Linked DNA regions of Homo sapiens: regions 1, 2, 3, 4, 5 and 7 are each linked to region 6. The links come from fine-mapping of genetic effects on gene expression. Tissue or cell type: whole blood. Region 6 holds a variant in brackets; each other region holds the start of a gene. Each region is shown on its reference strand, or each on the opposite one.

Evidence for each region. PIP is the estimated chance that this variant, and not a neighbour inherited with it, causes the effect.
Region 1: FAR2 starts here. The variant in region 6 is fine-mapped to the expression of FAR2 in whole blood (TOPMed, PIP above 0.99).
Region 2: EGR1 starts here. The variant in region 6 is fine-mapped to the expression of EGR1 in whole blood (TOPMed, PIP above 0.99).
Region 3: it holds the start of PFKFB4, and the variant in region 6 is fine-mapped to the expression of PFKFB4 in whole blood (TOPMed, PIP above 0.99).
Region 4: GLT1D1 starts here. The variant in region 6 is fine-mapped to the expression of GLT1D1 in whole blood (TOPMed, PIP above 0.99).
Region 5: it holds the start of BMX, and the variant in region 6 is fine-mapped to the expression of BMX in whole blood (TOPMed, PIP above 0.99).
Region 7: MMP9 starts here. The variant in region 6 is fine-mapped to the expression of MMP9 in whole blood (TOPMed, PIP above 0.99).

Annotation. Positions count from the first base shown.
Region 1 is chr12:29,146,899-29,150,973 of GRCh38, reverse strand. FAR2 (fatty acyl-CoA reductase 2) reads right to left here and starts at 1,696. Exons shown (of 12, transcript NM_001271783.2): 1 at 1,567-1,696. RefSeq lists silencers at 1,329-1,478, 1,789-1,848.
Region 2 is chr5:138,463,812-138,467,811 of GRCh38, reverse strand. It overlaps EGR1 (early growth response 1), which reads right to left and starts at 2,333. Exons shown (of 2, transcript NM_001964.3): 1 at 1,744-2,333; 2 at 1-1,055. The coding sequence starts at 2,050. RefSeq lists silencers at 2,080-2,289, 2,380-2,729, 2,740-3,139, 3,460-3,729 and enhancers at 1,595-2,434, 2,435-3,275, 2,348-3,547.
Region 3 is chr3:48,554,660-48,558,734 of GRCh38, reverse strand. It overlaps PFKFB4 (6-phosphofructo-2-kinase/fructose-2,6-biphosphatase 4), which reads left to right and starts at 1,932. Exons shown (of 14, transcript NM_004567.4): 1 at 1,932-2,054. The coding sequence starts at 1,958. RefSeq lists enhancers at 1,220-1,309, 1,440-1,529.
Region 4 is chr12:128,851,747-128,855,821 of GRCh38, reverse strand. GLT1D1 (glycosyltransferase 1 domain containing 1) reads right to left here and starts at 2,344. Exons shown (of 12, transcript NM_001366886.1): 1 at 2,173-2,344. The coding sequence starts at 2,240. LOC100128276 (a long non-coding RNA gene) reads left to right here and starts at 2,727. Exons shown (of 3, transcript NR_148996.1): 1 at 2,727-2,746; 2 at 3,470-3,629. RefSeq lists an enhancer at 1,363-2,014 and silencers at 1,876-2,075, 2,266-2,365.
Region 5 is chrX:15,499,082-15,503,156 of GRCh38, reverse strand. It overlaps BMX (BMX non-receptor tyrosine kinase), which reads right to left and starts at 2,350. Exons shown (of 19, transcript NM_203281.3): 1 at 2,217-2,350.
Region 6 is chr1:159,203,075-159,207,149 of GRCh38, reverse strand. It overlaps CADM3 (cell adhesion molecule 3), which reads right to left. Exons shown (of 9, transcript NM_001127173.3): 9 at 3,837-4,075. ACKR1 (atypical chemokine receptor 1 (Duffy blood group)) reads right to left here and starts at 2,275. Exons shown (of 2, transcript NM_002036.4): 1 at 2,170-2,275; 2 at 650-1,689. The coding sequence starts at 2,190. The coding sequence ends at 700. The variant A/G (reference allele first, on the strand shown) is at 2,257.
Region 7 is chr20:46,007,390-46,011,458 of GRCh38, reverse strand. MMP9 (matrix metallopeptidase 9) reads right to left here and starts at 2,551. Exons shown (of 13, transcript NM_004994.3): 1 at 2,395-2,551; 2 at 1,361-1,593; 3 at 828-976; 4 at 409-537; 5 at 143-316. The coding sequence starts at 2,532.

The sequences.
Region 1 (4,075 bases), not on the chromosome of region 6:
TCTGTAACTGGATGTCACATTTTAGCTTCCTTTAAGGAAAGCATATTTTCATTTACTTTAATTTCTCTAATAGCTGTATGATTTACCAACTCATGGTGATTTACATCTCTTTTATAGATAATTATAGCCCAATGTTAGAAATAGGAGTAAGTGAGGAATTTGTTAATACAGCAGGGGCAGAAGCAGCCCTCAGAATTAGGAAAAGAGTACTGTAAAGACGTGGATCCTGAGAAATACTACCGATGAAATATTGACACACGCGTCGGCCTGGTAAAAACCTCATGCCCATCTCCTAGAAGTCTCACACACAAATATCCCTTCTGCGGAAATGCCTGCTCTTGCAGTTTAGGTGGCTGCCTTAAGTTTTTATTTAGTCCCTTGCCCCCCTTTCTAAATTTTGGACTAACTACACCTGTCAGTCAAATCTCCAGCTCTTATAAATGGGAATATACAGAGATGGGTAATTGAAACCACGGGGTAATTCTCAAATTTCCATTTGCCCAGTGTCAAATTTCTCTCAACCTAGCAAACAGAAAAGCACGATCTACCTGAATTCCCTGGTCACTTTTCTGACCCTACTCTGTCCTTGCTCATCACATAATGGGGGCACTTTACGTGATTCAACGAGTGGCCAAACTCTTGCAGATCCAGCGATAACCTTGGTTGCTCACACCACATAACTCAACCGTGGAAGAAATGGTGCCACCGCTGGCAGGTGAGACGCCTTCCTCTGGTTTGTAGGATACGATTGGGCATGAATTGTTTTAATAGACTGAGACTGCCCCGCGGGTAATTCTACTTGCTAGGAGTGTTGAGCAGCCTTCCTGCAAGCCATCTACTCCAGTTGGGAGTCTGCTGGCACCTGCTCCCCTGCACACCCCCAGGATGCCCAGGCCGCAGGAAGATGTCTAAAACTTCCTACAGGGGCAAAGCCCGCCCTGGCCTCACCAGTCGCCCCAGCGCGCGTCAGCCACGACCCCGGCGAGGCCCAGGTGGGAGGGTAGGGACGTGCGCAGCCTGGGGTGGGGCTGGGGGCTGGCGAGGACCTGCTCCGGGGACCAGGACTGGGCGCCCTGGCGGTCCCAGGCACCGGGAGGGGACCTAGGACCGCTGCCGTTTCACACGTGGCCCCGGCATTTTCGCGCTCTCTCCAGGAATAGCCCCAAGGGCCCAGGAGGCCTGGGTGGGACTCGGCCCCGCGCCTCTCTTCCCGGGTCCCCAGTCCCCAAGGCGCGGCCCCCCACATTAACCTTGCTGGGTCCTTCCCGGCTTTCTGCCCTTTGCAACCCCCGCGCGCCCCACCTTGGCGGGCTCCGCCGACGCCAACCGCGCGTAAACGGCCGGTGACGATTGGGGTGCAGCCGGGGGCAGCTTCAGGGGGCAGAGCCTCCGCAAATGCTTCTCTCCTCCCACCCGGCCTCACACCCACCCTCCTCGAGGTCCCGCCGGGAACCGCCCCGCCCTGCGAACCCAGCCGAGCCCTCCCTCCTGGGCCACCCCCAGTCCGGTCTCTGCTTTTGGAGCGCGTGGGCTCTGCGAGCGCCAGGGCTGGGGACCCTGGAATACCTGTTCCTCCAGCACGAGGATGGGGTCCAACTAGTGGTCCTCTAAATCCTGCTCCTTCCCCGAGGCTACGGGAAGCGCTCCAGCCACAAGGAAACGGCTCCAGTCTTTCGGCTCCCAAACGTGACACTCTATATATCCGGCTCGGAGACTGGGTGTGGGGCGGGAGGAAACCACCCTCCCTCCGACCTTCCCCGGCTCCGCCGCTGCCTCGGCACTGGGCGCGAAACCGGCGGCAGCCTCAGCCCGGGGCGGGAGGAGGGTGAGGGGCCAGCGAAGGCCCTACAGGTCGCGGGGGCGACAGCATCGTGGGCAGGGCGGCCGCGCGCGCAGGCCCGCCCCGCGCTTCCATTCGTTCAGCACCAGCGGATCCACTGGCTATGACTCCCGCATTTGTGTGGTTTGGGGGAGGGGAGTTGGTTTTGGTTTCGGTGGGTTTGGTTTGTTTGTTTGTTTGGGGCTTTTGTTTTGTTTTGTTTTGGGTTTTGGGGTTGGTTTTTTTCTCCATTTTTTAATCAGTGGGCGAGGGGACAAGGAAGCTAGAAAGGCGCCCCTCTCTGGTGTGGGAAAGGAGAACTCCCACACCGTGAAAGGTGGCGGGGTAGGGGGGTGGAGGGAGAGACCGAGACAGGAGAGAGATTCAAAGGTTCTAGTCTGAACTGAACGCTTGGGGGACATACCTTTCCCCACCCACCCTAGCAGAAAAGGCAGCCAAAAATCCCAGTTTACTCAGCTTGACTACACTGCACATCCCGTGGGAGGGATGCTCTTGTATCTGCTAAAGACATTGCGGAGGCGCCCTGCAGTGACCCACGAACGCAGTGGCTTTTTAAAACCCAAGGGCGTGAGGGTGGAGGGTGATGCGAGGACTTCAGGTGAGGCTTCCTCACACTCGGGGTTTGAAGGGCAGAAATCCGGCTCTGCCTGCCTATGGTGGGGTGGGGGTGGGTAGGAGACTAGAAAGGATCAGAGATGGGGGCCGCAGAAACAGCAGTGAGCCAGCTGTGCTCAGCAGCACTTCTCCGGACTTAAAAGAAAAAAAGATGTTTCATTTCTTAGCCTGGTAGCTTTTTTGGGATTTGGTCATTGTTAAATTTTAAACGGAAAAACAAGCTGCCAGGGAAGCCTTGTAGAGGGATGGACAGGCACGTGAGTGGAGCCCTTGGCCTCAACCAGGAAGTGCTGAAAAACGGCCAACGCCCATCCTAATTCCCTGGACAATGTAGGAGGTAAATTTCCAAATAAATATGGTGTGTTAAGAAAAATAGAAAAGAAATATTGTCCTATAAGCTGTTCTGATTCTCCTCATTATAACAATCCACATGCAATTAAAGAAATAAAATTTGACTTTTGAAAGTTAGAATTAAGGAGTGATTTCATGAAATTAAAATAATAACACCCATCTTGAATTCTCTACTACTGGGCTCTTTAATGAAATGTGTTAAGCTAAGTGTAGCCTAAAGGCACTGACTAATTTCCTCTGGTGACCGCCTGAATGCAAGAGACAGAAAAAAAGTTACAACCAAATTTATAGTATTTTTCGTTACCCCTCCCCTCCTCAAGAATAAATTTGAATGTATCTTCAAAATGTGTGTGACAGCACTTCAAATGATAATGTCAAATGCTGGTGAAAACGTATAGAAATCACTTAACAGATAGCAGATGGAAGGTAAATTGTAATCACGCTTTTGTTGGAAAGCAATTTAGCAACACATTCCCAAGGTGTTCAGTAACGAAATTTTTTCTTGTTCTGGACCTAGATTCCCATGTCTTACAATGTATTCAAAGGAGATAATCCATAAAAGAGAAATGCCGCATGTACATAGTTGCATATTTATTACCGAGTTGTTTATAAAGTAGGAAATTAAAAGCATACTTTCAGTGGGATGTTCATAGATAAAATACAACATTAATTATAGATTACAAAACCACAATTTGATTATCACCATTTAAAACGCTATTCATATATGTAGAATGTATTAGTTTGCTAAGGCTGTCATAAGGATGCACATAAACTGGGTGGATTAAACTATAGAAATGTATTATTTCATAATTCTGGAGGCTAGAAGACCAAGATCAAGATGTCTGCAGGGTTGGTTCCTTATGAGGGCTTTGAGAGAGAATTTTCCATGATGCTTACCTACTTCCAGTGGTTTCTTGTTGGCTTGTAGACACATGACCCCTGTCTCCTATAATCTTCATATGGCATTCTCCCTATGTTCATGTCTGTGTCAAAATTTATCCTTTATAAAGATACCAGTCATATATGATTTAGAGCTCACCTTAATGGCCTCATTTTAACTTTACTAATTAAATTTGCAACAACCCTATTTCCCAATAAGGTCACATTCTAGAGTACTGGGAGTTAGGACTTCAATATGTGAAACTGGCAGGGGCGGAGAAGAACGCAGTTCCACCCATAACAGATAATAACAAAAAGAGGCAATGTAGTGGGTTGAATAGTGGCCCCAAAAGATATGTCCTGAGGCAAATCCCCAGAATCTGTGAATGT
Region 2 (4,000 bases), not on the chromosome of region 6:
AACCGGGGACGGGTAAGAGGTAGCAACCGGGGACGGGTAGGAAGAGAGAGAGGAGGTGGCCGAAGAGGCCACAACACTTTTGTCTGCTTTCTTGTCCTTCTGCCGCAAGTGGATCTTGGTATGCCTCTTGCGTTCATCGCTCCTGGCAAACTTTCTTCCACAGATGTCGCAGGCGAAGGGCTTTTCGCCTGTGTGGGTGCGGATGTGGGTGGTGAGGTGGTCGCTGCGGCTGAAGTTGCGCATGCAGATGCGGCACTGGAAGGGCTTCTGGCCTGTGTGGATGCGGATGTGGCGGGTGAGCTCGTCGGAGCGGGAGAAGCGGCGATCACAGGACTCCACTGGGCAAGCGTAAGGGCGTTCGTGGGGGGGCGTCTTGCTGGGCCGGTTGGGGTACTTGCGCATGCGGCTGGGTTTGATGAGCTGGGACTGGTAGCTGGTATTGAGGGCCTTCAGGTCCTGGGAGCCCGACTGAGTGGCAAAGGCCTTAATAGTAGACAGAGGGGTTAGCGAAGGCTGCTGGGTGCGGCTCTCCAGGCCCTGGAAGGGCTTCTGGTCTGGGGTGCCCAGGCCCAGATCCCCCTGCTGCTGTGGAAACAGGTAGTCGGGGATCATGGGAACCTGGAAGCCACCCTTGGCGGCAGGGTAGGCAGGAGGCGGGTACTGGAGCGCTGTCCCTGCCGAGCCCGGGAAGGCCTGGCTTTGTGGCTCAGGGAAAATGTCAGTGTTCGGCGTGGGGAAGGTGGGTGCCGCTGAGTAAATGGGACTGCTGTCGTTGGATGGCACTGCGCAGCTCAGGGGTGGGCTCTGGGAGGCGGAGGCGGAGGAGGCCGCTGGAGATGGTGCTGAGGACGAGGAGGCCGGTGGGTTGGTCATGCTCACTAGGCCACTGACCAAGCTGAAGAGGGGCTCGGGCCACAAGGTGTTGCCACTGTTGGGTGCAGGCTCCAGGGAAAAGCGGCCAGTATAGGTGATGGGGGGCAGTCGAGTGGTTTGGCTGGGGTAACTGGTCTCCACCAGCACCTTCTCGTTGTTCAGAGAGATGTCAGGAAAAGACTCTGGCAGGAGAGAGAGAAGCGGGAGGCCTGGTTACTGGAAAGCAATCACTGGAGGACGAGGACGACCCGAGCTGCCAGGCAAGAGACCGGGCCGGCTACCATTGACTCCCGAGGTAGTTAATAATTGATAGCAGCACATTGCAATGTTCCTGGACCCGCACCAGTGGCAGAGCCCATTTCAACAACAGCTGACGCAAATACGGAGAATCCCCCTCCACTGCAGCTCGCAGCGCTCCGCAGCGGCGGCTGTGCGGGCGAGGGATTCCCGCCAGCACCCCCATGGCCGCGGCTAGTGCGCGCCCCCAAACCCGGGCTGCCGGGACATCCACGGCCAAGGATCACGGTCCTTCCTTGGGGACAGGCGGCAAGCAAGGCAAGGCAAGTCTTACTGGAGGTGGGGGGCGCAGCCCCGCTCATCAAAACAAGCCCTCCCCCTCCACCCACCCACGCAGCTCCAGAGCTCTCCATCCAAAACAAAAGCTCGGTCCTCTGCGCTCCGCTAGGGATGAGGGCAGGGGGTGGGCTGTGTGGGGTTCCTTGGCATCCCTCTAACACATGACTCTGGGGATGCGAGGAATGAAAGGGAAACCCGGCTCTCATTCTAAGATCCAGGAGCACTCCTGCGGTGAAGGACAGGACGCCAGGATGGTGGCGAAAGGGTTCCCCCTCGGCGTAGGCCACTGCTTACCTGCGGTCAGGTGCTCGTAGGGCTGCTCGCCCGTGTCCGCCTGAGGGTTGAAGGTGCTGCTGCTGCTGCTGCTGTTGCTGCCGCCCCCGCCGCCTCCACCGCCCCCGCTGCTGCTGCTGCTGCTGTTGCTGCCGCTGCCCTCTGGGGCCCCGGCGGCGCCGAGGAACTGGGGAGCCCCGTTGCTCAGCAGCATCATCTCCTCCAGCTTAGGGTAGTTGTCCATGGTGGGCGAGTGAGGAAAGGATCCGAACGGGTCAGAGATCTGCAGCGGGGACATCAGCTGCATCTCGGCCTTGGCCGCGGCCATCCTGGACGAGCAGGCTGGAGAGCTGGTGTCGGGGCGGGGGGGTGCAGCCCGGGGCTGGAGCTGCAGGGGACACAGTTGCGGGGGCCTGGCCGGGTTACATGCGGGGCGCGGGGAACACTGAGAAGCGTGCAGGCGGCGACCCCGACTCGCCCTGGGCGCGGGCGGGCGTGGACGCGCCGCGGCTGCGGAGGCTGGGGCAGGGGCCGGTCCTGCGGCGGCGGAAGCTGGCTGCGGCGGCGGATGGCGGCGGCGGCTCCCCAAGTTCTGCGCGCTGGGATCTCTCGCGACTCCCCGGATCCGCCTCTATTTGAAGGGTCTGGAACGGCACGGGTCCGCCTCCGTCGTGACGTACATGGCCATATATGGGAAGCAGGAAGCCCTAATATGGCAGGACCGGCCGGGAGGACCCGGAGTGACGTGAAGCCCCCCATCCGACAGCGCCCGGCACCTCCATCCTGCACCCTAGGGCCCGCGCCCGCGCCCGCATCCCAGGCGCCCAGGCTTCGGGGAAGCCTAGAGCTCTAGCCGCCGCCGGGGCCTCCGGGACCCGCGCAGCTCCGGAGTTCCCGCGTTGCCCCTCCCTCCGCCTTCTTCCCTCCTCCCAGAGCCGGAAGCGGCCGGGCCATATCGGGCCACTCCAAATAAGGTGCTGCCCAAATAAGGGTTGTTCCGGCGGGGGATCCTTCCTGCTCCTTATATGGCATTTCCGGGTCGCAGCTGGTTGCTCCCTCGCTCCCTCCCTCCTCCCTGGTTCCAAGCCGGGAGCCCGAGCGCTCGCGGGATCCGGGGACGCCCAGGCGGGGAGGGCTCGTGGCGTGTGGCGCTGGGCGCGCGGCTGCTCAGGCGGCTCCTAGGCGTGAACTAGGCTGGGGAAGCCCAGACCCAGAGCGGGGGCGAGGGCGAGTCGGGCCGGGGTTCTATCGCTGTCATCCAGGGCCCGCCCGCCCACCTCAGGGACCGTGAGAGCGAACCGGGAGTGCGGGGGAGGAGCGGCTGGGCCCGCCTGGGCAGGGGCCGCCCAGGAGAGGCGGGGCCTTGACCCCGGGCCTCGATCTATGGCACGGTGTCTTTCCGGGTGTCGCTGGGAAATTGAGGATAGGAAGTCACGGCCACTTGGTTCTTGGGACACTGTATAGCAGTGAGCTGCCTTGCCTCTGCCACCTGTCGGTGGGATGGGGCTGCTGGTGCCTGGGGTCCCCTGTGCTCCCCCGGAACCGAAAGGCTGTTCCCTAGTCCCCGCCGGCAAAGAGCCCACCTTTGGGGGACCGAAGTGGGGAAGCTGATTGCCCCAAGAGAGGCCTGATTCTTGTTCTCACCAGGAGATAATGGTCCTTGTGGTGAGGGGTCACTTTCCCCCCTTTATCCAGTCCAGGTGGAGGGCCGGCCCACACTGCGGGAATCCGAAAGAGGGGCTTCCCTATGGGCTGTCTGGGGACCCCGGGCTGGGCGCGAAGAGAGGACCGGCTTGGCGGCTCGGTGCTGCCCCCTGGAGGTTCCCTCTCCACTCCCAGCCCCGGACTCCGGCCGCGCGGGCTCTTCCGCCGCCTCCTCGCTCCTCCTCCCGGATGCGGCGCTGGGCGCGGAGCCAGGCCGGGGGAGCCTTCGACGCAGTGAGCACGAACTGAGCAGGCGCTGCAGCCCGGGCTCCCCCTGCAGTCCCTGGGGAGCCGTCACTGCCGAGGCGCCCAGACTCCGGGATAACACTCCTCACCCCGAGCCTGGCCAAGGCGAGGGGGAGAAGGAAGCAGGGGGTGGGTGGTGGCGAGGGAGAACGATTCCCGCAGGTCTCCCTGGGGCCGAACGCGAACAGGGAAGCCCTCCCCGCCCCCACGACGCAGTCAGTTGCTCACCCCAAAGGGAACAGGGATTCCGGGAAGGGAAGGCTCCTCCTGCTCTAGCTCTGAATCCAGAGGAGGTGCTGTTTTTTCTGGATTTAAAAAGAAAGCAGAA
Region 3 (4,075 bases), not on the chromosome of region 6:
CAAAAGGAGGATGAGGAAGGAGGAAGTTGTTGACTCTGCCTGGGGCAGGGTGTTCCCAGGGCAAGCAGCTAGAGCTGGTTTGGGGGAGGGTCCAGATGGGCTTCCAGCATGTGGACCTTTGGAATCTTCAGTTCCTATGAAGTGGGCAAGACATCTGTGTCAGTCATCTTAAGGGTCCTTGCCAAGCTTTAAAGAGCTGGGTGGACTTGGACTGATCCAAGGCAGGGCTGTGGCAGGGAGGGCATGGGAGGGGGTGCTACACCTATAGCCCACGAGGCCAGTCTTGTTGCCAGTCCCATGCCCTCAACACCTGGCTCCTGGCTGGGTACACACTGGGCAGAGAGAACCTGAGGATGCAGGGCACCTGCCAGGGGTGTTGTGGATGACATCGCTAGAGGGCAGTGTGGCTCAGGTTGAAGCCGTGTTGGTGGGGGCTGGGGCAGAGAGTGTACAAAGCTTGGAGAGGCGGGGCTGGGGATCCCGAGGAGGCGGGAAACTGCAGGAGTCCGGTGGGGGCCAAACAAGAAAGTGAGCCAGGGGTTTAGGAACTTCTGGATCTCTCCCTTGTTCCTTGTCCCCAGTGCATTTTCAAAGACAAGAGGGAGATACAAATATAGTAAAAGGCAACCATAACGTATTTTAAAATGAATTTCTTAGAGATTGACATACTTAATTTATACTGTAATACTGTAAGATAGACAATGTGCACATCCCATTTTCCTGAAGAGAAAATGTTATTAACATATTATTTTCAAAAAATATGTAAAACTTTAGTTAAAAAAACCAAAATACTAAAAATCAAAAAAAAATTGTAAAAAATGAAATTCTGGAAAGACGATTAAGATACTCCCAGGGCTTAGTGAGTACCCAAAGTACTTGGTTACTAAGTGCCACGCACGGCCGGGCGCGGTGGCTCACGCCTGTAATCCCAGCACTTTGGAAGGCTGAGGAGGGCGTATCACCTGAGGTCAGGAGTTCGAGACCAGCCCGGCCAACGTGGTGAAATCCCGCCTCTACTAAAAATACAAAAATTAGCAGGGCGTGGTGGTGGGCGCCTGTAATCCCAGCTACTTGGGAACCCGAGGCAGGAGCATCCCTTGAACCCGGGAGGCGGAGGTTGCAGTGAGCCAAGATAGCGCCATTGCACTCCAGCCTGGGCAACAGGAGCGAAACTCCGTCTCAAAAAAAAAAAGTCCCACGCATTTGCTCCCAGCAGCCAAAGCAAAGAAAGAGGAACAATATTGAAATGTGTTTTGAGTCTCTATCCATGAGGTAAAAGAGCTTTTCCAGCGTGGTTGAGCATGCTCCTATGGACGGCGGAAGAGTCCCGGGGCTCGGAGCAGTCAAGGGGGACCCCGAGGAGGGGCAGGAGGGCGCAGCGGAGTTGACGGCTGGGACTGCAGGCCTACTGGCCCCTGTCGGCTCTGACCAACCTGGCCGTGCGGGTCACGTAGGCCTCGTCCCACTGCATGAAAACCCCTCCCTCCTGGGGGCCCTGGGCTCCCTAGCAAGGAGGTAGCAGAATTCACGCGTGCCGCTGCTCAGGGATGCAGCGCCAGGGCGGAGCCCGTAGGTGGGGCCTATGCAAATCAGCGCGGGCAGGTTGGGAGAGCTGAGTTTGCGCATCCGGGGCGGGCCTGCACAATCCGGGCCTTGAACTGGGGCGGGACCAGTACAATCCGGAGTTGAGCATGCGCATTCTCGATCCTGGCCTGAAGAACTGGGCCCACTTGTTCCAAAACGGGCGGGTAGGTGAGTTGGGCATGCGTGGTCGGAGGCCGGGCCCCTTTCAGCTGGGGCGGAGCCTACTCACTCTGGGGCGGGACCTGCGGGAAGATAGACATGGGCTGTCGCGGCTTGAGGAGGGGCGGGGCCCAAGGGGCGGGACCTCGGGTGGCCCGAGGTGGCCCGGCTGCTGGGTTGGAAGCGGCGCAGTCCGACTCATCCCGGCCCCGGGATGGCGTCCCCACGGGAATTGACACAGAACCCCCTGAAGAAGATCTGGATGCCATACAGCAATGGGCGGCCCGCTCTGCACGCTTGCCAGCGCGGTGGTGAGGCGGGGTCCTCTGGGAGGAGGTGGGAGGTGCACCGGGATGGGTGGGTAGGGCGGCCTGGGCGGGGGTCTCGCATGGAGAAGGGGCGGGAGACAGATGGGGAACCGGGGACAGGTGAGGTTGCCGTGACTGGGGAGGCTGCTGGGGACAGGTGAGGCGGTCGTGACAGTGGTGGGCCAGAGACAGGTGTGGCAGAGCAGGGGGCGGGGACAGGTGTGTGGGGGCATATCGGCTTGGCGGTGGCTAGGTCTGGCCACCATCACCTCGGGGAGGGCTCTGGCCCCCTCGCTTCCCTCTCCAATCCCCATCGCCCCCAGTCTGGGGAGGACCCTGTGGGCACCCCAGGCCCTTCCCTCTCTCCTGGCCAAGGAGTGTGGGCCGGGTTGTTGGACTGGAACTGAGCTGTGTGGCCCTAGGTGAATTACTTGGCCTCTCTGAGCCCAGAACTTTCAAAGGTGGGCTAGTTTTCCAACAGGAGGAAGGGTGCCTCTTGGCCTTAAAGCTGAGCTTGGGCAGGAACTTCAGCAGAGATGTGCTCAGGATAGAGACAGAAAAGTATGCCGTGTGGGCCTGTGTCTGTGTCCCGGGACATGTAAGTATCCACCTGGGGTCATGGGTGTACAGTAAAACTGGAGAGTGAAACAGCTAGGAGAATGCTGAAATTCATGGAATTGTTAAGGGGCTCACCTCTCCTAGGGTCCCAGGTGTTTAAACCGCTTCCTTGAGTTTCTGCCTGTCCTTAAATGAGCTGGCAGTTTTTTTTTTTTTTAAGAGATGAGTCTCGCTCAGTGGCCCAAGCTGGAGCAAGTGCAGTGGCGCGATCATAGTTCACTGCAGCCACGACCTTCTGGGCTCAAGCAATCCTCCCACCTCAACCTCCCGATTAGCTGGGATTATAGGTGCGCCACCACACCCAGCTTTTTTTTTTCTTTTTTCTTTTTTTTTGTAGAGACAGGGTCTTGCTATGTTGTCTGGGCTGGTCTCCAACTCATGGCTTCAAGTGGATCCTCTGGCCTCGGCCTTCCGAAGTGTTGAGATTACAGGCGTGGGTCCTGGCCTGCAACTTTTTTATTACCAGGAAAAGAAAGATTTGTTTTAGGAGTAACTGAAACATTGTAATGAATTTGCAGCTTGTCCAGCACCTCAGAGAACATCTAGTTTAACAGACAGTGAAATGGAGATCAGGAGATTGAGTGACATGCCTGGGTCTCCCTGTGATCCTGCCTCTGCTTATGTATGATAAGCAAGGGGAGAGTTCTTTGTGCTCATCCTGCTGCAGCAGCCTGGAGCCATGGCTTTGATCATGATATGAGTCCTGGGGGAAGGGTGTGTGTATTTCTGGCCACACTGTGAGTCCTGGCAGGGGAAGGCCATGTTTCTGACCAGACCAAGTCGTGGTAACTCATGGCTTTGATTGTGATGTAGGTCCTGGTGGGGCTGTGCTGTCTATAATGCACACTCAGTCCTGAGGGCTATGGCCACCCCTCCTTTGAGACTCTTCTGGAGGCGGGGAGGCTGAGCCAGTCTGTGTTATTAGGGCTGTGTGGTCCTGACTTAGGGGGGTGGCTGCTATTACTACATAGGGGAAAGGAGTGAGGACCTGGACTTTTTTTTTTTTTTTTTTTTTGAGACGGAGTTTCACTCTTGTTGCCCAGGTTGTAGTGCAGTGGTCCTATCTCAGCTCACTGCAACCTCTACCTCCTGGGTTCAAGCAATTCTCCTGCCTCAGCCTTCCAAGTTGCTGGGATTACAGGTATGCGCCACCATGGCCGGCTAATTTTGTATTTTTAGTAGGATGGAGTTTCACCATGTTGGCCAGGCTCGTCTTGAATTCGTTATCTCTAATGATCTGCCCCCCTTGGCCTCCCAAAGTGTTGGGATTACAGGCATGAGCTGCCATGCCTAGCCAAGTCTGTGAGCCTTTAAGGAGTAGGTCCTCAATAAGCGGAGGCAGGGTATTCTGTCATCACTACCATTCTTTCTTTGCTTCTCACTACGTCTGAGTCAGGGATTGATGC
Region 4 (4,075 bases), not on the chromosome of region 6:
GAGACCCCGCCATTGCACTCCAGCCTGGGCGAAAGAATGAAGCTTTGTCTCAAAAAAAAAAAAAAAAAAAAAAAAGGCAACCAGCAGCCCTTGGGGCTGCTCTGTCTATGGAGTAGCCAGTCTTTTATTTTTTTACTTTCTTAATAAACTTGCTTTCACTTTAAGGACTCGCCCTGAATTCTTGCTTGTGCAAGATCCAAGAACCCTCTATCGGGTTCTGGATCAGGACCTCTTTCCGTTAACAGTTTTGTTTTATTTTTTAGAGTTTTGATCTGCCACCCAGGCTGGAGTTCAGTGGTGCAATGTCACTTCGCTGCAGCCTCAACCTCCTGGGCTCAACTGATCCTCCTGCCTCAGCCTCCTGAGTAGCTAGGACCACAGGCATGCACACACCACATCAGCTAATTTTTAAATTTTTTTTTGTAGAGATGAGGGTTTCACCATGTTGCCCATGCTGGTCTTTAACTCCTGGGCTCAAGCAATCCTCCCATCTCAGCCTCCCAAAGTGCTGGGATTACAGGCTTGAGCCGCCATGAAAGCCTGCCCTAGGTTTTTTGTTTTTTTTGTTGTTGTTGTTGTTTTTTTTTTTTTTTTTTTTAGATGGAGTCTGGCTCTGTCACCCAGGCTAGAGTGCAGTGGCGTGATCCCAGATCAATTGGCTCACTGCAACAGCTGCCTCCCAGGTTCAAGCGATTCTCCTGCCTCAGCCTCCTAGTTTTGCTTTCTTAATAGCACTAATCCCTATGTGAAATCACCTCCTTCATTCCTCTCCCATACTGGGATGCTGGTTCATCCAACAGAGCCAGGAACACAAAGGGCTCCTCACTGCTAAACCCAAGCAGAGCATCACTGACCTATTTAATAGAAACCTGCACCATGAAACCTGAGTGTAAATTTTCCAGCAAATTTCAGAAAACTGATGGATCCTCTCTTGGTCATTTCTGCTTATGATCTTTAGGAGAAATTAGCTGAAAGGGACATGAAAGTGTTGGTGGAGTCTCAATTGCTCATTTTAATGATGAGGAGGCCGGGCACAGTGGCTCATACCTGTAAACCCAGCACTGTGGGAGGCCGAGGCAGGCGGATCACCTGAGGGCAGGAGTTCGAGACCAACCTGGCCAACATGGTGAAACCCTGTCTCTATTAAAAATACAAAAATCAGCCGGGCGTGGTGGTGCACACCTGTAATCCCAACTACTTGGGAGGCTGAGGCAGGAGAATGCTTGAATCCAGGAGGCGGAGGTTGCAGTGAGCCCAGATTGCGCCACTGCACTCCAGCCTGGGTGACACAGCGAGACTCCATTTCAAAAAAATAAATTGATGGGGAAACAGGCCCACAGAAGGGAAGTAAATCGGGAAATTTCATGAAGCAAGTCCGCTTTTACACACACACACACACACACACACACACACACACACACACACACGGCTTCTGTTAAGCTGCAGGCTCTAATCCTGGCACTTCCCAGGCTTCGCCTCAAGGAATATGTTTATCCGGCTAATACAGGCCGAGCGCCCGCTGTGCGGGTGGGAGGCGGCGGGATTAACGCGGCGGCCCCTCCCCGGGCCCCCGCCGGGCTTGCGTTCCAGCGACCAGAACACAGACCAACAAGTAAACAAATAAGACAAAGGCAGAAAAAGATGAGTGTGAAGGAGCTAACCAGCCAGGAAGACGAGAATAGACAGGGCAGAGGGGAGGTGGGAAAGGGACTTCGGGGACAGGACCCCGGACGCCGGCACACAGCCGAGACCCGATCCGCGAGGGCAGGGCTGGCACCGCGGTCCCCGGCCTGGAAACGCGCCCCCGCCGGGAGCTCCGCGGACCCCGCTGCGCATCCCTGCGGATCCTGCTCCCATCCTGCTTCTGCAGCGAGGCCTTCCCGGGCCCCTCCACGACAGGCTCCGGGCCTGTTCACCTGCTCAGTCCCCTCCGGAGAGCGCGAGGCCAATGCGCCGGCCGCACGGAGACCCGGGGACACGCGCGCCACGCAGAAGGCACCGACCCCCGCGCGCCCGGCAGGCGGCACCGGCCCATCCGTTTGTGCGCGCGGCTCGGGACGGCCCCGGCGCGGCTGGAGGGGGCCTGGCTGAGCGCCCCGCGTCCCCGGGTCCCGCGTCCCCGCCCCCCGGCCCCCGGCCCAGGCTTCGTAGGCCCCGGCGCCCTGCACCTACCGAACGCGCTGGGCCGTGACCGCGTTGCCGGTGTGTGGCCGCAGCACCGCCAGGAACAGGAGCCGCATGCCGCCGCCGCCGCCCGGGCCATCGACCGGCCCCGCCGCCGCCGACCAGGCCCCGGGGCCGGCGCAGACGCGGACGGCGGGGGAGCCGGGGCGGCTGGGTCTGTCCCGCCCGCCCCTCCCCGAGGCCGCGCCCCAGCTCGCAGGTTCCGGCGCCAGGCGGGGAGGGGGACAGGAACCGGGGGCCTCGGGCGGCGCGAGCCCTGGGTGCGGGGTGGCGCGGGTGTGCCCCGTGGGGTCCATCACCAGGGTAGCCGCGGTCTGTTTCCACCTGGACCAGGACCAGCGGTGACCACAGTCCCTTCCACGGGGACCAGGACCATCGGTGACCACAGTCCCTCACACGGGGACCAGGACCAGCGGTGACCACAGTCCCTCCCAAGAGGACTAGGACCAGCAGTGACCACGTTCCCTTCCACAGGGAACAGGCAGCGGTGACCACAGACCATTCTCACGGGGACCAGGACCAGCGGTGACCACAGTCCCTCCCAAGGGGACCAGGACCAGCGGTGACCACAGTCCCTTCCCACAGTGACCAGGACCAGGGGCGGCCTTGGTCCTTTCCCACAGGGAACAGGAGCAGGGGTGGCCATGGTCCGCTCCCATGGAAACCAGTGATGGCTTCCATGGGCTTCATTGGGAAATCAGGGCTTCACGGAACACCGGGTTGGCTGCAGGTCTGTGCCCACCGGGACCAGCAGAGACCTCGGGTTCCGTCCCACAGGGTGCTGCAGAGAGGGGCTCTCAGCCTCATTTTCCATGACAACCTGAGTGGGGCCTTGGTCCGCACGAAGCCCAGGATTCCTTTCTAGTCCCATTCCAGGGAACGTGGCATGATCAGTCCCAAATTCCTTCCCAGGCTAGACTACCCTAAAACTAACCCGAGGAGGGGAACATGGGGACTGTGTGAGGAGACAGTAGAAACCCATTTCAGGGCCGCACCTGTCGGGTGAGAAAGATGTTGGAGAGGGGAACCTGGGGTTCATCAGGGTACATGGGCTGCACCTGGTCTGGATCTCCAAACTAGGATACCTTGAGTGAGAGAAATAGGGAACTGAAGGAGGCCTCTGGCAAAATGCCATCTGTGGATTTAAACAAGCACTCCCCAAAACAGCTGTTAAGTGTTTACAAAGATGCACATGTATTTACAGATGTGGGACATTCTAGTGGGTGCCCAATATTTCCATTGACCTTCAAACTTGATTTTCTGTCATCCCCTAAATACCTTCCAGCCTCAAAAAGGTAAAGTGGGAATGAAGAAAGCCATGACATGGGATAACCACCGTCAGTGGCAGGTCTCCGGCCTCCCTACGCAGCATGGTGACCCCCAGGCTTATCAAGATATAAAAGTCCATCCTGGAGGGCACATTCGGCTCCGCAGGCTTCTCCCAGGTACGTCCACCACTCTGCCTCTCAGTGTGGCATGGAGTAGGGAAGAGTTGTATATCATTGTAGAACAATCAAAATCCTGTCCTCCTCTCACTCTCAAAAAAACACCCAGGATTTTGCTCTTCTTCCTGGTATTTCAGCTTCCCAGGCACCAGGCAGGCAGGCCACATCCTTTTTAAAGGACAAAAGCGATCTGAAAATATTATCATTCTGCTAAACAACTTAATACTTTCCAACAGAATTACATAAGCAAACAGGAAAGGGGACAAGTTGCACAGAGCTGTCACAACCCCCTTCTAACGACATTTTAGAAAAAGAGTTTTGACCCCGGGCACGGCGGCTGACTCCTATAATTCCAGCACTTTGGGAGGCCGAGGTGGGTGGATCACTTGAGGCCAGGAGTTCAAGACCAGTCTGGCCAACATGGCAAAACCCCGTCTCTACCAAAA
Region 5 (4,075 bases), not on the chromosome of region 6:
GCCATTGGATAGTTCCCTCAACCAGGAAGTGTATTCCCTGACTGGCTCAGGGTGGTGTCTTTAAAGATTTATCTTTTAAAATTCAGAGATAAGGATAGCAATTCCTTACCCTTTGACTTGGTTTAGTTATCCTCTCTTACTTTACATGCCATATAGCTAAAGATTTTGTAGGTGTCAAGATGTTAAAATAATACATGTGGTGGGAGGGCAGTAGAGCAGGAAGGGTGGGAAAGAAAGGGAAGACGCTCCAAGTGGGGTGGGATCTGGAAGGGAAACTGGAGGGCCCTGTGACAAACTTGATCTTCAAATATTTGTCCAAATGCCAGGCCCGCTTATCTTCGTGCTAAATAACTGAACAAAATGTGATGGTAGGTTTAAACAAGAACAAAAAGTTTGACTGAGGATCAAGTAAAGTGGTTCAAAAAGTCTTAGGATGCTGGCCAAAGACAAATACTGGCTTCACAGAACCTGACAGATCCTTATTTCACATGATGTTATGCAGGAGAGGGAAAGTTAAAGTTGATCTTGGCATGATATGGACAGAAATCTTTTAACATTGACAGTCAAATTCTCAGCATCTTGGAGCATCATACCTTAATTGATCCAAAATAAGTGTATAAAAACCAGACACTTTGGGAAGATCATTTTCTCACAAAGAAGGCAAGAATCTTAATGCTAGTCTTTTTGGAGCTAAGTTTTGCTTTAGGTGTGAGATTAATCTTCAGTGCCCCATAGAGCTTTTCTAAGTCTTTTCTTCTTTTCAGTAACCTCTTTCTTTCTGCTCCCTCTCCTCTGCTTAGGGCACTCTCTCTGGGCAACTTCCTTAGGAGAAAAGCAAAAAGTAATAAATCCATGAGCTAGCATCTCATGCTGAATTAAACATGTAACACTGCTTTCATGATGCCGGTTAGTGCAAGTGAAAGCACCGAGCTGGGTTCGAATCCCTGCTCTGTCTCTATGGAATCTGTCATGTTACTTAACCCAGCTAAACCTCAGCTTCCCCATCTGTAAAGGCAGTGAAACAATAACCACTTCGAAGGGTTACAAGTAGTCAAGAGAAAATGGCAGCCTAATGCCCAACACCCTAGTAGATATTCTAAAAGCTTATGTCCCTTCTGATCACTCCATAGGCAAAGTTTTAAAAAGGACCATAAAAAGTTAAAAAACTAAAGACAGTGAAATAATAATGATCCTTAATGATAAAATTTTACTTCTCATCCCTCTGTCCCCAGCTCCTGGGTATAGGAGAAAATGGGAGGCAGGAAGACCTCCTCATGTATTGCCATGTCAACAAACACCAGTCCATACATAGTAGGTTTGTCGCAGACTTTCCATCCTGAGACGAGTTACCATAAAATGAGGTTGAACCATACCCTTATTGACTGTGTATTTGTGCCACCATATTTCCTACAAATAAATACTTGGATGTGACTCAAAGTGTGGTCCGTGCACTTGCATCATCCGGGCGATCATTAGACATGCAGACTCTCAGTTCCCACCCGAGACCTCGCGCAGCCAAATCTTCATTTTAGCAAGATCCCCAGGTGATCCACGTGCACAGGAAAGCTTGAGAAGCACTTACATGGACCACAAAGTTGCACTCCTTTTCAAATCCAATGAAATCATTGTGGCCCACAAAATCTTTCAAAATTATATGGATATGAGTACAACTGCATGGTTCACCTCCCTCCCACCTGTCTATCTCCATCTAAAATACACAAAGCACTTGATTTAGGGAGACCTCAGGAACCTAAGAGCAAATATTTGTAGCTAAAGTAACATCATAAAAACACAGTTAAAGAAGGTATAAGGAACATTTCTATGTCTCTTTGGAAGCAGTTATGAGGCCAATATGAAAGGCTATGGAAAGGCAATACCTAAAGAAGCGGATGGAGAAAATTAGCAGAGAATACACACAAAGCTAGGTAGAACTGGTGGTGATACATAAACAACCTGAGAGCTTCCCTAACTGAGATTTTGAGCAAGGAGTGAATTTACAGTGAAATTATAGCAGTTTCAGCCGTTGGCCTCCAAATTACCTGGTCCCATCTAAAGTCCCAGAGAAAGCCCTGGCAATTTCATATTAAAAATGTTGTACTATTTTTCTTAAAGTGAGCTTCCCAAAGTTTGTAACTTCAGGCCCCACAACACCGGGAACCAAACCTATTTTCCGCATAGTATGCGACACTGAGTAGCCACCTGCCGCTTAAACGCACCGTCTCAGCTTGTTCCGTGCTTGCCTGGGTCCGCCGCGGTGCTTGGTCTGCTGTTGCAGGAACACGGCCCCGGCTGTCCTGTTTCCAGAAGCAAATTGTTTCACATTTTCCTGGCTGCCGGGTCAGAAATGGCTACATTACTCAGTGCCCCCAACACGTTTATTGTCCTACAGAGCCTTACACAATCCCACAGGAAACCACGCTCAACACTTAGCCAACACTTGTTGATCTGATTGAACGCAACAAAAACGGAGACAAAAGCATACTTCATAAAGTTTCCAATTTTGATAACTATAGCTCCCACTTTTCCCAGGCAGCTCTCGGGTACATGTGATAACCCTGCCTTTGTTTGTAGAGCTCTATGCTGGAAAGGACAAGAAAATATCTCGGCAAAACCCGACTGCTGACGCTGACTTCTCTCACATGAGCCAGGAAACCATTAGGTAATGCAAAGTGCACAGAGAATATGCAATGAAAACTTCAACTCAACATTTGGACAAAGGAAGGCCAGAGAATATGTAAGAACAGTTCATATGATGGAAAAGGAGCTTATTTATATAGTTTAAGTTATTAAGAAATCCAGAAATGGAAAATAGATTGTTTTTGCTAAGGTATGGTACACCTAGATCGCAATGAAAAAGTGTGTCACTTGACATCATTATGACAGACTCACAACTTTTGGCTTCCCCCATTCCACTATTTTCTCTGGTGCATACCGGCTGGCCATCTGTAATAAATCTAAGGACATATTTTATGTCCTGCTATGGATAGCCAAGAAAAGTAATCATCCTTTTGGCATGCATTGACACACTGTGTTTACTTATAAATTGTTGCTTACTGTAACTTATTTGTAAGTATCTATGATGTGAAGAAGTCTTGGGTTGGCAGAAGAGAGTGAAGCTACTGGCTTTCAAAGAGGTATTCTTTTGAGTGTACATGGAATTAGCATCATTTCTATTAATTCGTTCAGTCAAGTCTTATTTGAGAACCTGCCATGTGCTGAGCATTCCGTTAGGGGTTGGAGACACAAGAGCAAACAGAAGAGAGGCAGCCCACATCTTCAAGGGGCTTATGTGTCTGTGTGGGGGGGGGGGGAACCACAAATAGTGGTTTAATTACAGTAGAGTATGGGAAAAATAACTTGCAGAAATATTTTTTAATATTTCAGTTTGGAAACTAGAATTTTGGGAAGGGAAAGGAGTCCTTCAGAAGAATTCAAAAGAGTGTAACTTACATTCTAATAGCAAATTAAAGTCACTGATGGATTCCAAATAGCTCTCCATTCTTTAGGAATATAGTAGGTAGTCATTCAAAAAATTAAGGGTGAAGCAGGGCAAGAGTGGCACAACAACCTGGCTAAATAAATTAATTCTACACTCTGCTAGTTAATTTCCTTTTCCACATGGCGATTTGTATTTACTTCACAACTTATATATGGTAATATGGCAAAAGTTCGATTCTAGAATAAAAAGTAAACTTAGGGTAGGGGAAGGAGGAGTTGGTGATATGGTTTGGCTGTGTCCTCACCCAAATCTCATCTTGAATTGTAGTTCCCATAATCCCCACATGTTGTGGGAGGGACCTAGTGGGAGGTAATTGAATCACGGGAGTGGATGTTTTTACCGTGCTGTCCTCATGACAGTGAATAAGTCTCACCAGATCTGATGGTTTTATAAAGGGCAGTTCCCCTGCACACGCACTCTTGCTTGCCACCAGGTAAGACATGCCTTTGTTCCTCTTTCACCTTCCACCATGATTGTGAGGCCTCCCCAGTCATATGGAACTGTGAGTCCATTAAACCTCTTTTCCTTTATAAATTACCCAGTCTTGAGTATTTCTTCATAGCAGTATGAAAATGG
Region 6 (4,075 bases):
CAAGCTCATGGGTGGACATATGTTTTTACATGCATACATCTAACATAAAGGTAGATTCTAACAGATCGAGAAACAGATGTGTACACACACACACACACACACACGCACGCACATTCAGGTCATGCTGAGGAACCTGGGAGAGATGACTCCCAGGAAGTGGCTTTTTAAATTACCTTGATATGTTCCCTGAACTGAGTAACATCCCCTGGGATGCTTCTTTCACCTTCCCCACCACTGTCCTAATCACTAAACAAAGCCAGAGAGGAGACAGAAGACAGAGGCTGGGCAGGTTGGACAGGGGGAGGTGGTATTGCTCTGGGCTTTGTCATCACTCTTCACTGTTTATCTCTCAGTTTGAGTTCCTATTCCATTTGCTTCCCAGAACAGCTTTTTTTCCAGCTAAGCCATCCCTTCTGTTTTTTTTGGTTTAATGACTCCCCTCATGCTCTGGTTCCTCTTCTCTTCTCCCTTGAGATGGCCGTGACCCCACACCTCAAGAGAACATCTGTGTACCCTGAGGGTATTTATTCATCATTCACCTTCTTCCCAAGCCAGCTATAGAAGCAGACACTGGCAAGAAAGTCTGACATAAAAATGTCTCTCTCTCCATTCTCCTTCTTCTCCCCAGACAAAATAAGAAACCACCCGCTTCACAAAGGCAGTGTAGACTTTAATTCAGGTTGACAGGTGGGAAGAGAACTAGGATTTGCTTCCAAGGGTGTCCAGATGAGAAGACCATCCTTCAGGGAGGGGCAGAGAGGGCAAGAGGGTGCGGGTGGCCTGGTGGCAGAATAGGGCGAGGAGCAGGGGCGTAGCCACACAGTGCAAAATTGCCAGGGCTTCTGCCAGGTTCAGCAGCAGGTCCAGAGCCTGCTGGGCCAGACATGTTGACAACAGCAACAGCTTGGACCTCACCAGGAAATCCAGTCCTAGAACCACCCCATGAGGCCACCAGAAAATAAACCAGGCCCACAGGATATTCATCCAGGGGCCTGGCCCCATACCCAATGCCTTCTTCAGCCCCTTGGCTCCAAACAAACCCAATGGCAACAAGACAAAGATGGCAAGACAGGCTACAGTGTGTGTGGCCTGCAAAGCCTTCAGCTCCGTGCTGTATATCAGGGTGCAGAGTCCACCAGAAGCACCACTGGCCAGGGTGACAGGCAGTGTCAGTAGGGCAGCCACTCCCCAAATTCCCACAGTGAGCCCCAGGGTGAGGCCTGGGACCTGGCCTGCACCCAGTCTGTGGCCCAGGGAGGCATGGCACCCTAGCAGCAAAGCCTGGGCAAAGGCTGAGCCATACCAGACACAGTAGCCCAGGCTACACAGGGCAGAGCTGCGAGTGCTACCTAGCCCTGGGGCCAAGACGGGCACCACAATGCTGAAGAGGGCACTGCCCACAGCCAGCTGTGCCAGGACAGGCCAGCCAGGGCAGAGCTGCCAGCGGAAGAGAGGTCTGAAAAGCATGAAGAGGACAGTGCTGCTAGCTAGGATACCCAGGACACTGGTGAGGATGAAGAAGGGCAGTGCAGAGTCATCCAGCAGGTTACAGGAGTGGCAGGGGGCAGCTGCTTCCAGGTTGGCACCATAGTCTCCATCTGGGAAGGAATCATTCACACCATAGGAAGAATTCCATACATCTTCGAAGTCCAGCTGACTTGAGTTCTCAGTTGAGGGGGAGAGCTCCGCCTGGAGGACATACCCAGAGGAGGCCATCAGAGTTACACCGGAAGAGTCTCCTGGGAATTGAGGGGCAGGTGGGAGGGGAGGACAGAGAGGAAGGTCGGGTGGGAGAACAAGGTCTCTGCAGGAGTCAGATGCAGTGCGGACAGTGGAAAAGGACAAAGCAGGGAGCCTGAAGAGCCGGAGCAGGAACAGTCCTGGGGAAGCCAGGGCAGCTGGGGCTGGAGGAGCAGTGCAAGGTCAGAAGGAAAAGGCACCAAGAGACCAGGATGGAACTGACTCAAAGGCAAAGGGAGGGACACAAGAGGGAGCTAGGAGGCTAGCATAGGAAGGAGAGAAGGAAAAAGACTTTGAAGGAAGAGGAAAAAAGCAGGAAGGGAGAAAAGATGAGGAGGAAAAGGAAGAGATATAAAGACTGAGGGGCAAACAGCAGGGGAAATGAGGGGCATAGGGATAAGGGACTCTGGGGCCTGGCCCCATACTCACCCTGTGCAGACAGTTCCCCATGGCACCGTTTGGTTCAGGCCCGCAGACAGAAGGGCTGGGACGGCTGTCAGCGCCTGTGCTTCCAAG[A/G]TAAGAGCCAAGGACTAATGAGGGCCATCAGGTTCTGGGCAGGGACAGGGGGCATCAGGAAGCCTTACCCCACGCCCACTGCCTGCACAAGCCTCAGGCCTATGGGGGTCACTGGCCTTGGGTCTTCCTGTTTTGAGGTTGGATTTGGCTGGTTGGGACTACACTCAGGAAAAAGGTGGGGACCAGAAAGTGGGCATTTTACCGAAGTGGAAAGGGAGATTGAGAAAACAGGGGGCTTTCCAGCAAGTAGAGATTTTACCGAAGTGGAAAGGGAGATTGAGAAAACAGGGGGCTTTCCAGCAAGGAGAGATTCTTCAAGCACAAGGAAGGAAGAGAGGGGGGCTGGGTGACTTGTGAGGCAGAGATAAGGGAGGTGCTGGGAAATTGGAGTGGAAGGGCGGCTGACTCTCACTGCTCCTCCATCCCCTTGAACTGGATCCAAGGAAAGGCAGTTCAAAAGCCATGTGTTTGGGAGAAAGGTGGTGGTGGTCAACTCTGTCCCAACTGAGGGGTGTGTGCACGTGGGCGTGAGCTCTTTGTGTGTACTGAACTCTGTGTACGTTTGCTGTGTATCATTGTGCACATATCTGTATGTGAGGGGCTTGGCGGGTGTCTGGGTGTGTCTAGCTATCTCTAGGTCTGGGTGTTTCAGTGTGAGAGTGGGAGGGTTGGGGTGGCTGTCGAGGCTGCATAATGAAGCCATTTCAGGGAGCTATTGGGTGTTTGCCTAGCCACCTATGGGCTCAGTGCATGCCTCTTGCATATGAAGTGGAATACATGGTCTGACAAGTTAAAGTAGGCTCTAGGGGACAATGGGACAGCATATTTTAAAATGGGACCATTGCCCACAGGGTGATTTCTATTCATATTTCTACTGGGGGACATAAAGTCTCTGGAACTGTTTCATTGGCCAGGCATCTTAGCAATATGTAAAGTTTCTCACTGAGGGGCAGAGCTGGCCAGCAGAGAGAAAGGGCATCTACCCTGCAGGCAGGCCGATTCTCCCAAGCACATTTCACTTTTTTAGTGGCTTCTTCCCCCTCCCTCCCCTCCTCAGCTGTTTCCCCAGGATCGTCACTGTTTCATCACCCCTCTCTGCTTTTATTTCCTCAGCTAGGGAGACATAGTGGGGACTTTGGGAGCGGTGAGCCATGGCGTGTCCAAGTCAGAACAATGAGATAGAAAGGGCTGGTTAGGGGACGCTGTTTCATTTGTCCAAAACAGCATCGGCTGCTTCATCTCCAGTGTTGTTAAGGACCTTCTGTCCCATTCATGTAGGGCTTCCTAGGGGGCCAAGCACCTCAGACCTAAGGTGCAGAAGGATGGGTACCTCGTAGAGATTTCCCCCTTTTCTCCCAAGACACTAGCTCAAGTTTCAGGTTCAACATGAAGGGGCTGGAAAGTGAATTTGGTCTGGTGGTGTCTGGTGATGCTCTGCAGGGTGGGGTTGATGGCATCTCCATCGCCGTCTTAACATTCTCCAGCAATGCCTGGCAGAGGGTGGGGGGAAGCAGTCAGATGCCCCCCAAGACACTCTCTGGAAAGGAAGGGCTTAGCAAAAGGAAGTGAACACACTTCTCTCCCTTGTAGAGTTATATTGTTGCTGTACATAGATATTCTTGAGAGTGGCCTGGCAAGGGACACACCACCTTTTGAGGCACCAGGCACCAGGTGCAAGGGGTATGGGAAGAAGACCCTCACATACACACATCCCAGCAGCAGCAAGAGGACCAGAAAGGAGGCAGCTGAATGACACGGATAATCCAGATATATTGAGGGTGACCCCTCTGAGATTAGCACAGGAGAGTTAGAAAGATTA
Region 7 (4,069 bases), not on the chromosome of region 6:
ATTTCTCAGATGAGAAAATTGGGCCCAGAGTGCGGGAGGGTGAATTGCAGGCCACACAGCACTAGTGGCAGAGCTGGAATTAGAACCCAGGACCATCAAGGGTGGTGGGCGCCCCCAGCCCTCGGCGAGCCCCCTCACTCACTCTCGCTGGGGCAGAAGCCAAACCGGTCGTCGGTGTCGTAGTTGGCCGTGGTACTGCACCAGGGCAAGCCGTCGGAGCGACCGTCGGTGGTGCAGGCAGAGTAGGAGCGGCCCTCGAAGATGAAGGGGAAGTGGCAGGCCGCGCCATCTGCGTTTCCAAACCGAGTTGGAACCACTGCAGGAGGAGGGGGGACCGGAGTTAGGGCGGCGGGTGATGAGTGGGAGAGAATGAAGGGAATCAGGGGCCAGGAGGACTCAGAATCTCACCGACGCCCTTGCCCAGGGACCACAACTCGTCATCGTCGAAATGGGCGTCTCCCTGAATGCCGGGGCCAGGAGGAAAGGCGTGTGCCAGGAGCCCGTCCTTCCCGTCGAAGGGATACCCGTCTCCGTGCTCTGAAGAAACAGGTCGAGAGGAAGAGGGTTAGCCGAGTACTGCTGCGCAGATTGTGCGCTGCCCAAGGCAAGGGCTCCGAAATAAGTGCGGGCTGAAATCCCGCCTGCGCGAAGCTCTCCCAGCCTGGCGCCCTGGCCCTGTGCACTGTCTGGCAGGAGGGGCCGTATAAGCCAGGGCAGCGCGGGCAGGCAAGAGGAAGCCGGGGCCACTGCTGCCTCCACGCTCTCCGTGGTCCTCCCTTCCCTGACCCCGCCCAGGTCTCTTGGATTTTCCCTCCTCACGTTCTCACCCGCGACACCAAACTGGATGACGATGTCTGCGTCCCGGCTGTACACGCGAGTGAAGGTGAGCGGCGTCACCGCGCTCCACAGTGCGAAGGCGCGGGCAAAGGCGTCGTCAATCACCGCCCGCGGCAAGTCTTCCGAGTAGTTTTGGATCCTGTAGCGTAAGAGCCAGAGGAAGGAGGTCAGAAGTGAAAGGCTGGAGCGGGGCAGCAGGGACACCCCATATCGCAGAGACTTCAACATACACAATGCTCTCTGCCGTCCACGCTCTCATCTATAAATTGCTTCCAGACTGTTTTTTTTTTTTTTTTTTTTGTCTACTTAGACCCTCACAATGGCCCTGGCAGGAGGACTTGGATTGCAAGAGCCATTTCCCTGAAGGAGAAACAGAGGCTCAGAGGTGGGGACACTCCCCAGGGGCCACACATTAAATAGTGAAACCCAGGGACGCGTCCAAGACAGGACATGTTCACCGCTGGCCCAAGAGCCAGACCTGGCCTCCCCGCCCCACCCCGCTGCCCCCACGGCCCCGGCTCACCAATAGGTGATGTTGTGGTGGTGCCACTTGAGGTCGCCCTCAAAGGTTTGGAATCTGCCCAGGTCTGGGACCCCGCACCGTGGGGTTCGCATGGCCTTCAGCGTGGCGCTATCCAGCTCACCGGTCTCGGGCAGGGACAGTTGCTTCTGGAGAAGCAGCAGCGCAGGCCCCAGAGATTTCGACTCTCCACGCATCTCTGCCACCCGAGTGTAACCATAGCGGTACAGGTATTCCTGTGGATGAAGGGACACACACATGCCAGATCTCTGACCCCTTTCTCTGCCCAGCTGGGGCCAAAGGACTCCCTCCAGACACTCATGGAGGGAGTCTTTTTTCTTTTTCTTTTTCGGAGAGACGGTATCAGCCCACTGCAGCCTGGACCTCCTGGACTCAAGCGATCCTCCCATCTCAGCCTTCTGCATAGCTGGAACTACAGGTGCACATCACTGTGCCTGGCTATTTCTTTAATTTTTTTGTAGAGACAGGATCTTACTATGTTGCCTAGGCTGGGCTCAAACTCCTGAGCTTCAGCGATCCTACCACCTCAGCCTCCCAAAGTGCTGGGATTACAAGTGTGAGCCGTCATGCCCAGCAGGGACTAACATTTAATAAAGCATTAAATGCTTTCCAGACACCAGTGCTTTCTGACCACCCAGGGATCTCCCCTCCTTAGACATCCTCAGCTCCTTCTCACCCCTGGATGCCTCTAGCCCATTTCTACCCCACAGCTGCATAAGGTTTGCCCCTGTTCACTCCCAGCCTATGCTTACCCCAGAACCCTCCAATGCCTCCCCCACCCCAAACCATTTCCCATTTCCCACCTAGGAAAGCCCCATTGCCCATTTCTGGCCATCACTGCTCAAAGCCTCCACAAGACCCCCCACTGCCTAACCCTGGACACCTCTGTTCTTCAGATACGCCCATCACCACCAACACACCCCTAAAGCATCTCCTCTGAGGCCCTGCATCCTCTCTGGGACACTCAACACCCTCACGGACAGCCCTCCCCAACTCTAGACTAGGTGTTTGCCCACCTCTGCCAGCTGCCTGTCGGTGAGATTGGTTCTCAGGTCTCCAGGGAAGAGCACAAGGGTGGACTGGCGCTGTCTGGGGGCAGCAAAGCAGCAGCCCAGCACCAGGAGCACCAGGACCAGGGGCTGCCAGAGGCTCATGGTGAGGGCAGAGGTGTCTGACTGCAGCTGCTGTTGTGGGGGCTTTAAGGAGGCGCTCCTGTGACCCCACCCCTCCTTGACAGGCAAGTGCTGACTCAGGGGTCAGGGTGTGTGTGTGTGTGTGTGTGTGTGTGTGTGTGTGTGTGTGTGTGTGGCAGCACCAGCATGAGAAAGGGCTTACACCACCTCCTCCTCTCTCCACTGCCCGCAGTCTCCACTGCCAAGTCAGGCAAGACCCCAGACCCGCAGGAAACCGCAGGCCCTCAGGGGAGGGGTAGGGTTTTGCAAACTGCAGAGCTTGTGGGAACTGTATGAAAGGGAGGGAGGGGGATGAAGCTGGAGGGATCCCCCATCCCTTGGTCTGAAAGCCTCCAGTGGTCAGCCAAGGGAAAGTGATGGAAGACTCCCTGAGACTTCTTTCTGAAACTAATGATCCCCCTGGCCCATCCTTGGCCTTTTGCAACACCCCCTCCCAGGTCAGATATCCTCCCCAAACCCCTCCCCACACTCCAGGCTCTGTCCTCTTTTTCCCTCCCTGACAGCCTTCTTTGACTCAGCTTCCTCTCCCTGCTTCATCTGGGGGCGGAAGGAATGGGCTCTGCTAGGCAAGGCTGGGGAATTCCACTGGGGCAACCCCCTGTCTTCCGCAGGCTGAATCTTCAGGGCAGTAAAGGGGACAGTAGCAGCCTCTAGAAAACAGCAGACATGGCTTTACTCTCTTCCTTCAGGACCTCGGGCAAATGTCTTACCACTTTGAAGTGTTTCCTCAGCTGTAAAAAAAAAAACGGGGGGTGGGGGGCTCTTTGTCCCTAAATTGATGTGAGGATTAAATGAGATCAAACATATAAAATGTTTAGAACACTGTAGGTTGTAAGTCCGCAACGGATGGTGGTGATTGGTTTTAATTACTAAGGCCAAGACCCAAGATTCAGGGCCAGGTATGGTGGCTCATTCCTGTAATCTTAGCACTTTGGGAGGCCGAGGTGGGAGGATTGCTTGAGCCCAGAAAGAAGGTCAAGGATACAGTGAGCCATGATTATGTCACTGCACTCCAGCCTGGGCAACAGAGCGAGACCCTGCCAAAAGACCATGATTCTAACTTGGAATCACCAAACCAGGTTATTGGGCTCTAAGCTGCAGTGTAACCTGGAGTAAATGCCTTCCCCTTTGTCAGCTTAGGATTCTTCAACTGCAAATTGGGGCAGGATATGGGGGAAAATAATCTATAGGAGCCCTTTCAGTTCTCCAGCCCTGCTCCATGCAGCCAAATCTCCAGCCCCAATTATCACACTTATGCCAAGCCTCCCTCCCAAGCCTCCCACACCAGCAGCCTCCCTCACTCCTTTCTTCCTAGCCAGCCGGCATCGGGCAGGGTCTATATTCACCTTCTTCAAAGCCCTATTTGGGAAAAACCTGCTAACAACTCAAAAAGTTGTATTTATTTATTTTATTTTATTTTTGGGGGGTGTAGTATCACTCTGTCACCCAGGCTGGAGTGCAGTGGCGTGATCTCGGCTCACTGCAACATCTGCCTCCC